Regions from separate parts of the Homo sapiens genome. Here all the other regions are reported to be linked to region 1. The links are microRNA targets in miRTarBase. Many come from high-throughput screens and were not tested one by one. Region 1 holds a microRNA gene; each other region holds the end of a gene's coding sequence.

The links. Region 1 holds the annotated microRNA hsa-miR-3118 (UGUGACUGCAUUAUGAAAAUUCU, at 2,834-2,856, shown strand). A microRNA usually pairs through its seed, bases 2 to 8, with sites in the 3' UTR of a target mRNA and lowers its output. Matches are read on the target gene's strand: a 7mer-m8 pairs with bases 2 to 8, a 7mer-A1 pairs with bases 2 to 7 and ends in A, and an 8mer does both.
Region 2: the mRNA of TMEM101 is a reported target of hsa-miR-3118. Seed matches in the 3' UTR shown: 7mer-A1 at 1,035-1,041.
Region 3: the mRNA of IL6ST is a reported target of hsa-miR-3118. Seed matches in the 3' UTR shown: 7mer-A1 at 2,544-2,550.

Annotation. Positions count from the first base shown.
Region 1 is chr15:20,830,005-20,834,244 of GRCh38, forward strand. It overlaps MIR3118-2 (microRNA 3118-2), which reads left to right and starts at 2,791; the gene lies at 2,791-2,865.
Region 2 is chr17:44,008,222-44,012,461 of GRCh38, reverse strand. It overlaps TMEM101 (transmembrane protein 101), which reads left to right. Exons shown (of 4, transcript NM_032376.4): 4 at 226-1,274. The coding sequence ends at 534. It overlaps NAGS (N-acetylglutamate synthase), which reads right to left. Exons shown (of 7, transcript NM_153006.3): 7 at 3,394-4,014. The coding sequence ends at 3,861. Among named protein-coding and RNA genes, the nearest start is that of TMEM101, 4.6 kb to the left of the region's middle. RefSeq lists a silencer at 907-1,201.
Region 3 is chr5:55,937,406-55,941,645 of GRCh38, reverse strand. It overlaps IL6ST (interleukin 6 cytokine family signal transducer), which reads left to right. Exons shown (of 17, transcript NM_002184.4): 17 at 1-4,240. The coding sequence ends at 564. Among named protein-coding and RNA genes, the nearest start is that of IL6ST, 55 kb to the left of the region's middle.

The sequences.
Region 1 (4,240 bases):
CTGGATAAAGAAAATGTGGCATATATACACCATGGAATACTATGCAGTCATAAAAAAGGATGAGTTCATATCCTTTGCAGGGACATGGATGAAGCTGGAAACTGTCATTCTCAGCAAACTAACACAAGAACAGAAAACCAAACACCACATGATCTCACTCATAAGTAGGACCTGAACAATGAGAACACATGGACACAGGAAGGGAAACATCACACACAAGGGCCTGTCAGGGTGGGGGGCTAGAAAAGGGATGGCATTAGATCATGGGTTGGTGCATGCAGCAAGCCACCATAGCATGTGTATACGTATGTAACAAACCTGCATGTTCTGCACATGTACCCCAGAACTTAAAGTATAATTAAAAAAAAATAAATTTGCTTTTAATTAAGCTTTTCAACATAGAACTTGTAAAGAAAATACTTCTGAATCTTTTACTACCACATCATAGCTGGGACAAACTGCTGATATTTTAAAAGTAACACAAATATCAAACAGAAAGAACTAGACTTAGGAACCAAACTCAGGTTTCTGTAGTGAACAGGGCAGAATCTTAACTTTGGGTCGCCACCACTACTCCCTCAGTTTGGCCTTGGCTAGCAAAAGATGCAACCACTTATGTAAAAAATAAAAATAAAAAAGTTAAAAAAATCATTTCTGCTAACTGGAATTTTTTTTTTTTTTGCAGCCACATGAGTTTTAGCCAATTCAGAAGCCTTGTTCCCCACAATTTGGAGCATTCTTTGGATTTGACCAAGTCAGGAAGAGATGGGAGAAAAGTGAAACAACAACAACAAAACCCCAAACATAAACAAACAAAAAGAGTTAAGCAAAACAAACAAATGCACAATTCATATGATTACTGAGTGTTCTAATGGTAACGAGAAATTAAAAGCAGCTGGTGAGTAATCTTAAATTTTAGTCATTAAGGAAAAATTTTAAGACAAAACTCTAATTCAGCTACTTACCTGGAAATAAGTCTCAGGCTGGTGATTGTTCTCTGCCATCTTAGAAGCTGGAAAAAACTTACACTCACCTTCCCTGTCAGAAGCAAGCTGAAACTCAAGAAAGGAGGTGCCTGCTCTCCATCATCACGGAAGCAGGAAAACTTGCCTTGTTGGAAATAAGTAAAACTTCAGAAAAGGAGTTGTATAGCAAAATCAACCTTAGATCTCAACCAAATTTTGGGAGATCAGGGATTCTCTGCAGGGGAGAAGCTCCCTAACCTCAGCACATTATCCTATTGGTTTGGGCAATAAAGATAGCCCAGGTTGGTATCAAGCAATAATGAGATTTATCAAAGGTCAGGACCACCTTTGTAATCTCCTTCTCTCTTTTTTTTTTTTTTTTTTTTTTTTTTTTTGAGACGGAGTCTCACTGTCTCGCCTGGGCTGCAGTGCAGTGGCACGATCTTGGCTCACTGCAAGCTCCACTTCCCAGGTTCACACCATTCTCCTGCCTCAGCCTCCCAAGTAGCTGGGACTACAGGCACCCGCCACCATGCCCAGCTAATTTTTTGTATTTTTCGTAGAGACGGGGTTTCACCGTGTTAGCCAGGATGGTCTCGATCTCCTGACCTTGTGATCCATCTGTCTCAGCCTCCGAAAGTGCTGGGATTACAGGCGTGAACCACCGCGCCCAGCCCTCTGTCTTTTTTTTTTTCTTTTTAATCTTTATTGGTATAGTCTGCTTTGTCAGAAACTAGGAGTGCAACACCTGCTTTTTTCTATTTTCCATTTCCTTGAAATATTTTTCTCCATTCCTTTATTTTGAGCCTATGTAGGGCACTGCATGTGAGATGGGTTTCTTGAAGATGGCATACTCCAATGGGTCTTGGTTCTTTATCCAGCTTGCCCCCTGTGTCTTTCAATTGGAGCATTTAGCCCATTTCCATTTAAGGTTAGTAATGGTATGTGTGGATTTGATCCTCTCGTCATGCTGTCAGCTGGCTTTTTTGCAGACTTATGTATGTGGTTGGTTTTTAGCATCACTTGTCTGTGTACTTCAGTGTGTTTTTGTAGTGGCTGGTGGTGGTCTTTTCTTTCCATATTTAGTGCTTCCTTCAGGAGCTCTTGTAAGGTAGGTCTGGTGATAATGAATTCCCTCAGCATTTGCTTGTCTGAAAAGGATCTTGTTTCTCCTTCACTTATGATGCTTAATTTTGCTGGACATGAAATTCTGGGTTGAAATTTCTTTTCTTTAAGATGTTGAATATCTTTTCTGGCTTGTACAGTTTCAGTTGAGAGGTCTGCTAAGTCTGATGGAATTTCCTTTGCAGGTGATGTTGCCTTTCTCCCTAGCTGCCTTTAACACTTTTTCTTTCATTTTGACCGCAGAGAATCTGATGATTATGTGTCTTGGGGATGATCTTCTCATGGCATATCTTACTGAGGTTCTCTGGATTTCCTGAAGTTGAGTGTTGGCCTGTCTGGCTAGGTTGGGGACATTCTCATGAATGATATTCTGAAATGTGTTTTCCAAGTTGGTTCCATTCTCCTCATCTCTTTCAGGTACATTAATCAGTCATAGATTTAGTCGTTTATATAATCCCATATTTCTCGGATGTTTTGTTCATTCCCTTTCATTCTTTTTTCCCCCATTCTTGTTTGCCTGTTTTATTTCAGAAAGCCAGTTTCCAGGTTCTGGGATTCTTTCCTCTTCTTGGTCTATTCTGTTGGATGGTCTTGCACATGAGATGGAGCTGGTCTGACCTCAGCCCTCCCTAGTCTGCTTGCCTCTCCCAGGACCCCAGCCTGGCCACATCTGCTTACAGGGCACTCTCAGGTGCCCACACATACTACAATAATTTTCATAATGCAATCACACACAATCACCGTGTGACTGCATTATGAAAATTCTTCTAGTGTGATTTACAGCTCTGTCAGGTCAGTTATTTTCTTCTTTATACTTGCTATTTTGTCTGTTAGTTCCTGCAATGTTTTACAATGATTTTTAGCTTCCTTGTATTGGATTACAACATACCTCTTTCACTCAGGGAACTTTGTTCCTACCCATATCCTGAACTCTGCTTGTATCATTTCAGACATCTCAGCCTCAGCCCAGTTCTGAACACTTGCTGGAGAGTTGATGCAGTCATTTGGAGAAAAGAAAGCATGCTGAATTTTTGAGTTTTCAGTGTTCTTGCACAGTCTTTTTCTCATCTTTATGGGCTTATCCACCTTCAATCTTTGAGGCTGCTGACCTTTGGACAGGGTATTTTTCCTTTATTATATCTGATGACCTTGAGGATTTGATTGTGGTGTAAGGTGGATTCAGCCAACAGGTTTTGTCTTTGGAGGATTTTAAGGGGCCAACATGCAGCTCCCAATTCTTGGACTGTGTGCTTTAACTCTGGGGAACTTGTATTGGGCCACAACTTTGTTCTCTGGCTCCTCGAGGTTTGGAGTCCACCGCACTGAGGGGACCAAAGTGCGGCAGCTGTGGCAGAATGCTAGCAGATGCAAAAGTCCCTGCCTCCCTGTGGGCATTCACCTAGTGGTGGAGGCAAAACAGCTGGGGTGTGGGCCAGGGGGCCCCTGCTGACTGTGTGTGCTGTTGCACTGGAGGTAGTTCTGGTTTGGGGTGGGTGGCTGGCCAGTGAAGGTGCCTTCTCTGATCCCCCCCAAGCAACAGTGGTCACTCAGGGTATAAGAAGGTCCCTTTTCCTCTGCACAGCATTACCTCAAGGGTGAGATGCTAGCAGGGGTGGGGTTTTTGGTTCTGTGCCCACCATGGCTTCATCTTCAGTGGCAGTTGGTGTGGGTTGGGGTGTGTGCTGCATTCCCATATGCTGTTAGGGCAAGTACAACAAAACCCACCTGTGTAAACACACACAGCTAAGTGATGTAGAAAGTTTCCATATAAAGGGCTGCAGTATGGAGAGGTAATGTGCAGGCTGGTACGTGGCTGTAGAGGTCACCTTGCTGCAGCTCTCCACTGATCAGCCACGGTCCGCTTGTACAGAAGCTATGGTGTGGGCACCCAGAAGTGCCCTCTAAGCAGGTGTGGCCTGGCTGGGGTCCTGGGAGAGGCAAGCAGACTAAGGGGTGCTGAGGTCAGACCAGCCCCATCTCATGTGCAAGACTGCCCAGCAGAGATCAGGTCTCAGAGGAGAACTCTCTCAAAAGTGAATCCTCAGCACAGCACAACTGCTCTACACAAACGCGGCCAGACTTCTTTTTTAAGCAAGTCCCCCTTTTTAGGAAGAGAACTCTTAGACCTGATCTGTGCTGGGCAATCTTGC
Region 2 (4,240 bases), not on the chromosome of region 1:
CTTCCTTCATAGCCCCTAGGGTGAGGGGAGACATGGGCCCTAATCTCCTGGGGCTCCATAGTCCGAGGGGGAGACAAAGGCCCTACTTTCAGAGGTTCCCCAGTCCAAGAGGGGAGTCAGAAGCCCATCTGCAGGGACTCATTTGCAGGTGCCATCTCAGGGGTGGTTTACCCCAGACAGGCTTCTGAGCCTGTTGGAGAGTCTTAGAGGATGTTATGTCTCCAGGCCTACTCACTGCAGCACAGCAAGGAGGACCGGCTGGCGTATCTGAACCATCTCCCAGGAGGGGAGCTGATGATCCAGCTGTTCTTCGTGCTGTATGGCATCCTGGCCCTGGCCTTTCTGTCAGGCTACTACGTGACCCTCGCTGCCCAGATCCTGGCTGTACTGCTGCCCCCTGTCATGCTGCTCATTGATGGCAATGTTGCTTACTGGCACAACACGCGGCGTGTTGAGTTCTGGAACCAGATGAAGCTCCTTGGAGAGAGTGTGGGCATCTTCGGAACTGCTGTCATCCTGGCCACTGATGGCTGAGTTTTATGGCAAGAGGCTGAGATGGGCACAGGGAGCCACTGAGGGTCACCCTGCCTTCCTCCTTGCTGGCCCAGCTGCTGTTTATTTATGCTTTTTGGTCTGTTTGTTTGATCTTTTGCTTTTTTAAAATTGTTTTTTGCAGTTAAGAGGCAGCTCATTTGTCCAAATTTCTGGGCTCAGCGCTTGGGAGGGCAGGAGCCCTGGCACTAATGCTGTACAGGTTTTTTTCCTGTTAGGAGAGCTGAGGCCAGCTGCCCACTGAGTCTCCTGTCCCTGAGAAGGGAGTATGGCAGGGCTGGGATGCGGCTACTGAGAGTGGGAGAGTGGGAGACAGAGGAAGGAAGATGGAGATTGGAAGTGAGCAAATGTGAAAAATTCCTCTTTGAACCTGGCAGATGCAGCTAGGCTCTGCAGTGCTGTTTGGAGACTGTGAGAGGGAGTGCGTGTGTTGACACATGTGGATCAGGCCCAGGAAGGGCACAGGGGCTGAGCACTACAGAAGTCACATGGGTTCTCAGGGTATGCCAGGGGCAGAAACAGTACCGGCTCTCTGTCACTCACCTTGAGAGTAGAGCAGACCCTGTTCTGCTCTGGGCTGTGAAGGGGTGGAGCAGGCAGTGGCCAGCTTTGCCCTTCCTGCTGTCTCTGTTTCTAGCTCCATGGTTGGCCTGGTGGGGGTGGAGTTCCCTCCCAAACACCAGACCACACAGTCCTCCAAAAATAAACATTTTATATAGACATTTGGTTTTGCTTTTCTGTTCTCCCCAACAGGGAACTCTGCCATTGGCTGGGATTGATCTTGGGTTTCTTGAAACACTAGATCTGGTCAAGCCCCACCTTGGGCCTCCCGTGATCTTTCCCCTGTTCCAAGATTTCCCACAGTTCTTTGGCTCTCTCTCTTTCTTTTTTTTTTTAATTTTTCACTTCTTTATTTTTTAGAGACAAGGTCTCACTTTGTTGTCCAGGCTGGTTTCAGACTCCTTGGCTCAAGTGATTCTCCAGCCTCAGCCTCAGCCTCCCAAAGTGCTGGGACTACAGGCATAAGCCACTGTGCCCAGTGGCTCTCTTTTTCAAGAATCTCAAAATCCTCATTGTACTATATGCTTTCAATCCCTCACCTCAGTCCCTCTTGTTGTAGGTTGTCTTTTTCTCCCCATTTGGAGCTGGTTCTTATGAAGACATCTTTGGTGAGAGCAGCTAGAGGGAGAGAACTGTGAAGTGTCCACTGTGAAGTGGAATATTTTACACTTTATACATGAAGGAAATGGAGGCTCAGAGAGGATAAGCAGTTTCGGTCAAGCCACAGAGCAAATCCAGCCCACAGAGCTGGATTCCAGGTCAGGTCTGTCTAATGGTGAAGTCCAGATATGTACTCACTGTGACCCATCTCCTGAGGGGAGACAGAGGCTGCTCTATTCCAGCCCCTACTGTGCCATGATGGTCTCCCTGTTGACCTTCTCCCTTTTTTTTTGAGACGGAGTCTTGCTCTGTCACCTAGGCTGGAGTGCTGTGGCGTGATCTCTGCTCACTGCAAGCTCCGCTTCCCGGGTTCATGCCATTCTCCTGCCTCAGCCTCCCGAGTAGCTGGGACTACGGTTTTGTTTGTTTGTTTGTTTTTTGTTTTTTTTGAGACAGAGTCTCACTGTCACCCAGGCTGGAGTGCTGTGGTGTGATCTCGGCTCACTGCAACCTCTGCCTCCCGGGTTCAAGTGATTCTCCTGCCTCAGCCTCCTGAGTAGCTGGGATTACAGGTGCCCGCCACCATGCCTGGCTAATTTTTTTTTTTTTTGAGACGGAGTCTCGCTCTGTCGCCCAGGCTGGAGTGCAGTGGTGCGGTCTTGGCTCACTGCAAGCTCCGCCTCCCAGGTTCACGCCATTCTCCTGCCTCAGCCTCCTGAGTAGCTGGGACTACAGGCGCCCGCCACCACGCCCAGCTAATTTTTTGTATTTTTAGTAGAGATGGGGTTTCACTGTGTTAGCCAAGATGGTCTCGATCTCCTCACCTCGTGATCCACCCGCCTCGGCCTCCTAAAGTGCTGGGATTACAGGCGTGAGTCATCGCATCCGGCGACCTTCTCCCTTCTTGTCTATGTGTCTGCCAGAAAGTCACCCCAGCAGCAGCCGGTATGGTGCCTGCTACATTATGGAGCTTCAAAAAATGTCAAATGAAACCCCTGGGCTTTGGATTTCTGCCCATCGAGTCCTGTAGAGACTGGACACAACCACTAGTAGGGCCTAGGGGAAAACGTCCAAGTTTGAGCTTTTAAGCCAAAGCCATCTTTTAACTTCTCTGGGCTCTTGCAGGTAAACGGTCCGCCACTGATGCCTGGGTCTGGCTGTGAGCCCAGCCTAGAAAGGGAGCTGTGGGTGGAGGCACTCACAGGCAAGGGGAGCTGGGGCTGCTGTGGCCTGGTCTGTGGAAGGGAGGATGCTTCCTAATCTCTGGGAGGGAGATGGTGGCAGCATTCATCATAGAAGTCTTCTACTCCCTCCAGGAGTCCCCTGATTCCCCAGCCCTCAAGATCTTGCTCCCAGCCTGTAATCCTAGCATTTTGGGAGGCCAAGCAGGGAGGATTGCTTGAGCCCAGGAGTTTGAGAGCAGCCTTGGCAACATAGTGAGACCTCGTCTCTACCAAAAAAAAAAGATCCAGGTGTGGCGGTGCATGCCTGTGGTACCAGCTTATTTAGGAGGCTGACATGGGAGGATTGCTTGAGCCTGGGAGGTCAAGGCTGCAGTGAGCTGTGATTGCACCACTGTACTCTAGCCTTGGTAACAGAGCAAGATCCTGTCTTTAAAAAAAAAAAAAAAATCTTGCTCCCACGGGGTCACTTCTAATTTTCTTTCAAGTGTAAGCTGACTCTCAGACAAGTATTTGCATTTTAATCAAGGCCTCCTGAAAAACTGCAAGACCCAAAGGAATTAAAATGAATGGTAGAATATCACGCAGGCAGGGGTATTATTTTGGGTAAGGGAGCCTCAAAACATAGCACAGAGGCACAGAAACTAGCTCACCCTTAGGGTTAGTCCTGAGTAGAGCCCTGGAAGGCACCCTCCCCTCCCCTAATCCCCAGGTTGAAAATCGAAGGCCATTTGGTTGTAGCTTTAGAGTGAGTCGAGTTGGGGTCCTAGACTGGTCCCCTTCTTTCCTGTGCTTGTCCCACTTCAGCGCCTCCTCTGGGCAGAGCTGGGGCTGCTTTCTCCTCTGCAGATCACTCAGCCAACAAGCCCCCTTCAGCCTGTGGCTGGCTGCCTGGGGTCATGCCCAGCTGGCATGGCTTTTGGTCCACCCTGGCCATTCCAGGGCCTGTAGTGTCCATGGTGAGGGTCAGCTGCCTGGGTCAGAAGCTGGCTTGTGAAAGGAGTCTGGCAGTCCCTTGGCGTGGTTGACCAACTCATAGGAGTCCCGGATATCAGCCAGGCCAAACCAGAAGAAGATCCACTGCTTGTTGGAGAAGCTGCCATCACTGTGTTTGAAGTACCTGGGTGTGGGGAGGTGATGTAGGAAACAGTTTTTAGGGCAAGGCCAGTGTTCATTACTCACTGGTTCTGTCTTTAAAAAACATTGATTGAGGACCTACTGCATGCTGGGCACCCAGCTTGGTCCTGCTGTGTGTTATCTCATTTTATCCTCACAGCAGAGGCCTGAGCCTGGCATTGTGATGCTCAGCTCACAGAGAAGCAGCTAAGGCTCAGAGAAGTTAGGTA
Region 3 (4,240 bases), not on the chromosome of region 1:
TCATGCATGTCATCTTCTAGGCCAAGCATTTCTAGCAGTGATGAAAATGAATCTTCACAAAACACTTCGAGCACTGTCCAGTATTCTACCGTGGTACACAGTGGCTACAGACACCAAGTTCCGTCAGTCCAAGTCTTCTCAAGATCCGAGTCTACCCAGCCCTTGTTAGATTCAGAGGAGCGGCCAGAAGATCTACAATTAGTAGATCATGTAGATGGCGGTGATGGTATTTTGCCCAGGCAACAGTACTTCAAACAGAACTGCAGTCAGCATGAATCCAGTCCAGATATTTCACATTTTGAAAGGTCAAAGCAAGTTTCATCAGTCAATGAGGAAGATTTTGTTAGACTTAAACAGCAGATTTCAGATCATATTTCACAATCCTGTGGATCTGGGCAAATGAAAATGTTTCAGGAAGTTTCTGCAGCAGATGCTTTTGGTCCAGGTACTGAGGGACAAGTAGAAAGATTTGAAACAGTTGGCATGGAGGCTGCGACTGATGAAGGCATGCCTAAAAGTTACTTACCACAGACTGTACGGCAAGGCGGCTACATGCCTCAGTGAAGGACTAGTAGTTCCTGCTACAACTTCAGCAGTACCTATAAAGTAAAGCTAAAATGATTTTATCTGTGAATTCAGATTTTAAAAAGTCTTCACTCTCTGAAGATGATCATTTGCCCTTAAGGACAAAAATGAACTGAAGTTTCACATGAGCTATTTCCATTCCAGAATATCTGGGATTCTACTTTAAGCACTACATAAACTGACTTTATCCTCAGACTAGCTGAATGATTTTGTGCTGTTTCAGGATGTTTGCACTGAAGAAAAACAGAAAGCTTATCTGAAATTTATAAAACTTTTTGTTTTGCTACATAGAAAACAGAAGGTATTTGAATAATAAGCAGTGATATGCTTAGTGAGCACAGCTATACTGATTTTGATTAGAATAGTCATCAGAGTGGCTTAGGGACAGTTAATATAAAAGAGGAGCAAGGTGTAGACCATCATCTACTTCTGCTAAAATAACTTAAAAAGAGGTCCATAGGCCATAACTACATGAGCCCAGCTTTTGTAATCTGACAAAAAAATGAGGAGCAGCTTCGTGTATATCAGTGTACACGGTATTCCTTAGGTCCCTTCCATTGGTAGTGATGCTGCGAGTTATTACTGGAGAAAAGGAATTCTAGAGCTTTAACTTGGCAGATTAAAAGTACTCATTTTTTATTCATCAATAATTAGTAATCTCACTAGTTTTCAAAAATTTGCATATTATTGACAACCTCTTTGAAGATGCATTTCACAAACTCAACAGAGTGCCATGATAAGAGCTAGGGATCCCCCAAACTATCTCAAGCATCTAAAAAATTGCCATTTTTAAAGGCTTAAATTGTAGTAGTAAAGGGGAAAACAGGAAGTAGTAGTAAAGGGGAAAAAAAACCAATAAAGCATCTAAAAAATTGGCATGTTAAAAGGCTTAAATTGCTAATGTGTGTATATATATATATATATATACACACACATATCATTGACTTTTCTTAAGACTTCAGAGTACTGGGTAGATGAACACTTTATACAGTATATATCTTCAGCTTAAATTTGTTTTGAGTATTTTTTTTATTTTTAAATAAGTAGGCAAAGATTTAAATTTTTTTATTTTTAGTAAATGTTTGAGGCACACTAAGACAACTTGGGCAATATTTGCCAAAACAAAACAGAACCCCAAAAAATGTACATCTTGTTCTTAGCAAATATCATTATTGTAGAGACACTTAATAAAGAGATGGTATTTTAATGTCTGCAGTTCTGAGGTAGGGTGGAACTTAGTTCTACATTGTGATTTAGGAATTTTTAAAACCTTTTTTCTTCAAGGGAGAAGTGACCCAGGCCTCGAGTTTAGTGCTAAAGCCGCTAGTGTACTTATGCTGTCCCCTAACCACCACGTGCGATATGGAAGCAGATGCTAAATATAGGGGTTTTCTTAGAAAGTAAGAGGAAATTAGCAAGCGTTATTAGTGATTGACTACTGCTATCAAGTGAATTCAAAGGAAACAGGTTTTTATGCCATATTTAAGTTACAGAAACCAGGCATGCTTAGAATAGTTTCTAGAGGTTATTGGAGAATAGAAAGCTAAGAAAACTTGGTATACATTTACAATGGAAATATAATTACACTTTTTACTCTCAGAATATTGTTCACATTAGACTTCCTGTTTATCTTTTATATTCTTGCATTTATATAATGCCTCATCCTTTCAAAGTTCTTTCACATATTATATGATCTTCTTTATGAAAAAAATAGATGTTTCATTCTGATATATTCAGTTTCCCACTTTAGGCAAAAGTAGATTAATAGAATGACGAATTCAAAGTAGATGAGGAAAATCAGGCACAGAGAAGTAAAGGTAGGGATAGACCCAAATTTACACAACAAGATAATGACATCTCCAGCTTTTAAGTTGATCATCAAAGGCTGGGCTGGATTTGTCTTGCTGTATGTGTCAGGAAATTTATACCTATTACATTTTCCATTTTCTCAAAATTTAAGTCACATGACTAATATTTAGCTGCAACTTTCCTCATAACAAATAGTGTCATGAAGAATGTTGTAGTGTGAAGTTTGTACATTTCAGGGTCAGATATACAATATGAACTCTTAATCTACAGGAATGAGAATGGAGGATCATTGAAGGCCATGATATAAACAAATTTGCATGTTGAAGCCTGTATAAAACATGGTACAGTGAGTGAATATACCCCCATCCCCAAGAACACTTTATACATATTAAATGGATATATGATTACTGTGCAAAAATTCATTCTGGAAATGAACATATATTTGAGCACTAATATGTAATGTACACCTGCCCTAAGGAGAAAATAAATTATAAAACTTTTTACATTCAAAATTACTTTCCCAAGCATGTCTTAGAATAATCTATGTGTTGATGCATGTAAATTGTACTTTAGGTAGGCAAAGAAATCTGGTTATTTATGTAAAAACTAGTCTAATAAAGTTAGTTAGTGGCTTTATCACTTTAAATCTTTAGTGTCCAAAAGTGGTGTTTAAAGTAATAGCACATCAGAAAACCTTGTCTGGACAAAACTAGTTCACTCACTGCTTCTGCACCTGCAGTTGCTCCCTTTAGGGTTATAAAATAATGACCCAAATGTTACATGTGTTGATATTATAACTTGTCAGTTACTGATGTCTGTGGTATCCTACCCTCATCTCTGAAAGGGATAATACTGAATAATTATTAGAAAACTATAAAACTTCACACTTTGTACCATTAAAACCTAAAATTTTAATCTTGTCCTTTTTTACTATGGATCAGTCGGCACTCGGGAACAGCAGCAAGGAAAAAAAGCAAATTTCATTCACATGTTCTGTGTTCATACCTCTTCTCTACCTAATTGTTCATTTAAATTTCAGCCTTATTCCTTGATAAGGGATTTTACCACATGAAGTCATCCAGTGACCCTAGCTCTTATTGTGAAGTTAGTGGAGTATACTTAGAAATGTTACAACTTTAAAATGTTACAAAACATTCATTAAAGCTCATATTTAAAGTAGAGCATCTAGTTTGAGAAATAGAAATCAATTATTAAAGATGTCTTTTTTCTACCCATTTAACTAGTTAAAACCATGACATGTAAATGTAGAAGTAGAATAATCATAGAATTCCCTAAAATATTTCTGTTTACTAACATATATTGACCAAGTACATCAAGCAGGAGAGATCTTCCTTCATTCTGTTATAGTCCACATCATTCTAATTTTGCTCAGTTGTTATTAAGAGCATATTCCTAAACCATACACTTTTGTTTCAATAAAGTTTTATTTTGTTGAGATGAATAAAATAACAAAGTTATAAGCTGCATAAGACAAAAGTTCAATTGTTCAAAAAAAATTTACTGGGATAGCTTTCTATTACAGGTATTGTTAGATTATATTGTGCTGATAAGATTACTTTCTAAAAAATTTGTACTTTTCTGTAAATTAAAAGAATATGGAGTCATAAAATGGCAAGTGTTTTAGGATTAGCCTAAAATTGGACATTGTCATTGATTTCAAAGAAGGTATGAACTAGCAGTCTTACAGCCTAATTCTTCTTTGGACTGGTCCTTGGCAGCAGTTCCTTTTCAGACTCGATAAACAGAATTCAGATGATGTAAGTCAAAACAAAACTTTACAAAGCCAAGCGTATTATCTTTTGCATTAACCTATTTTTTTCCATCA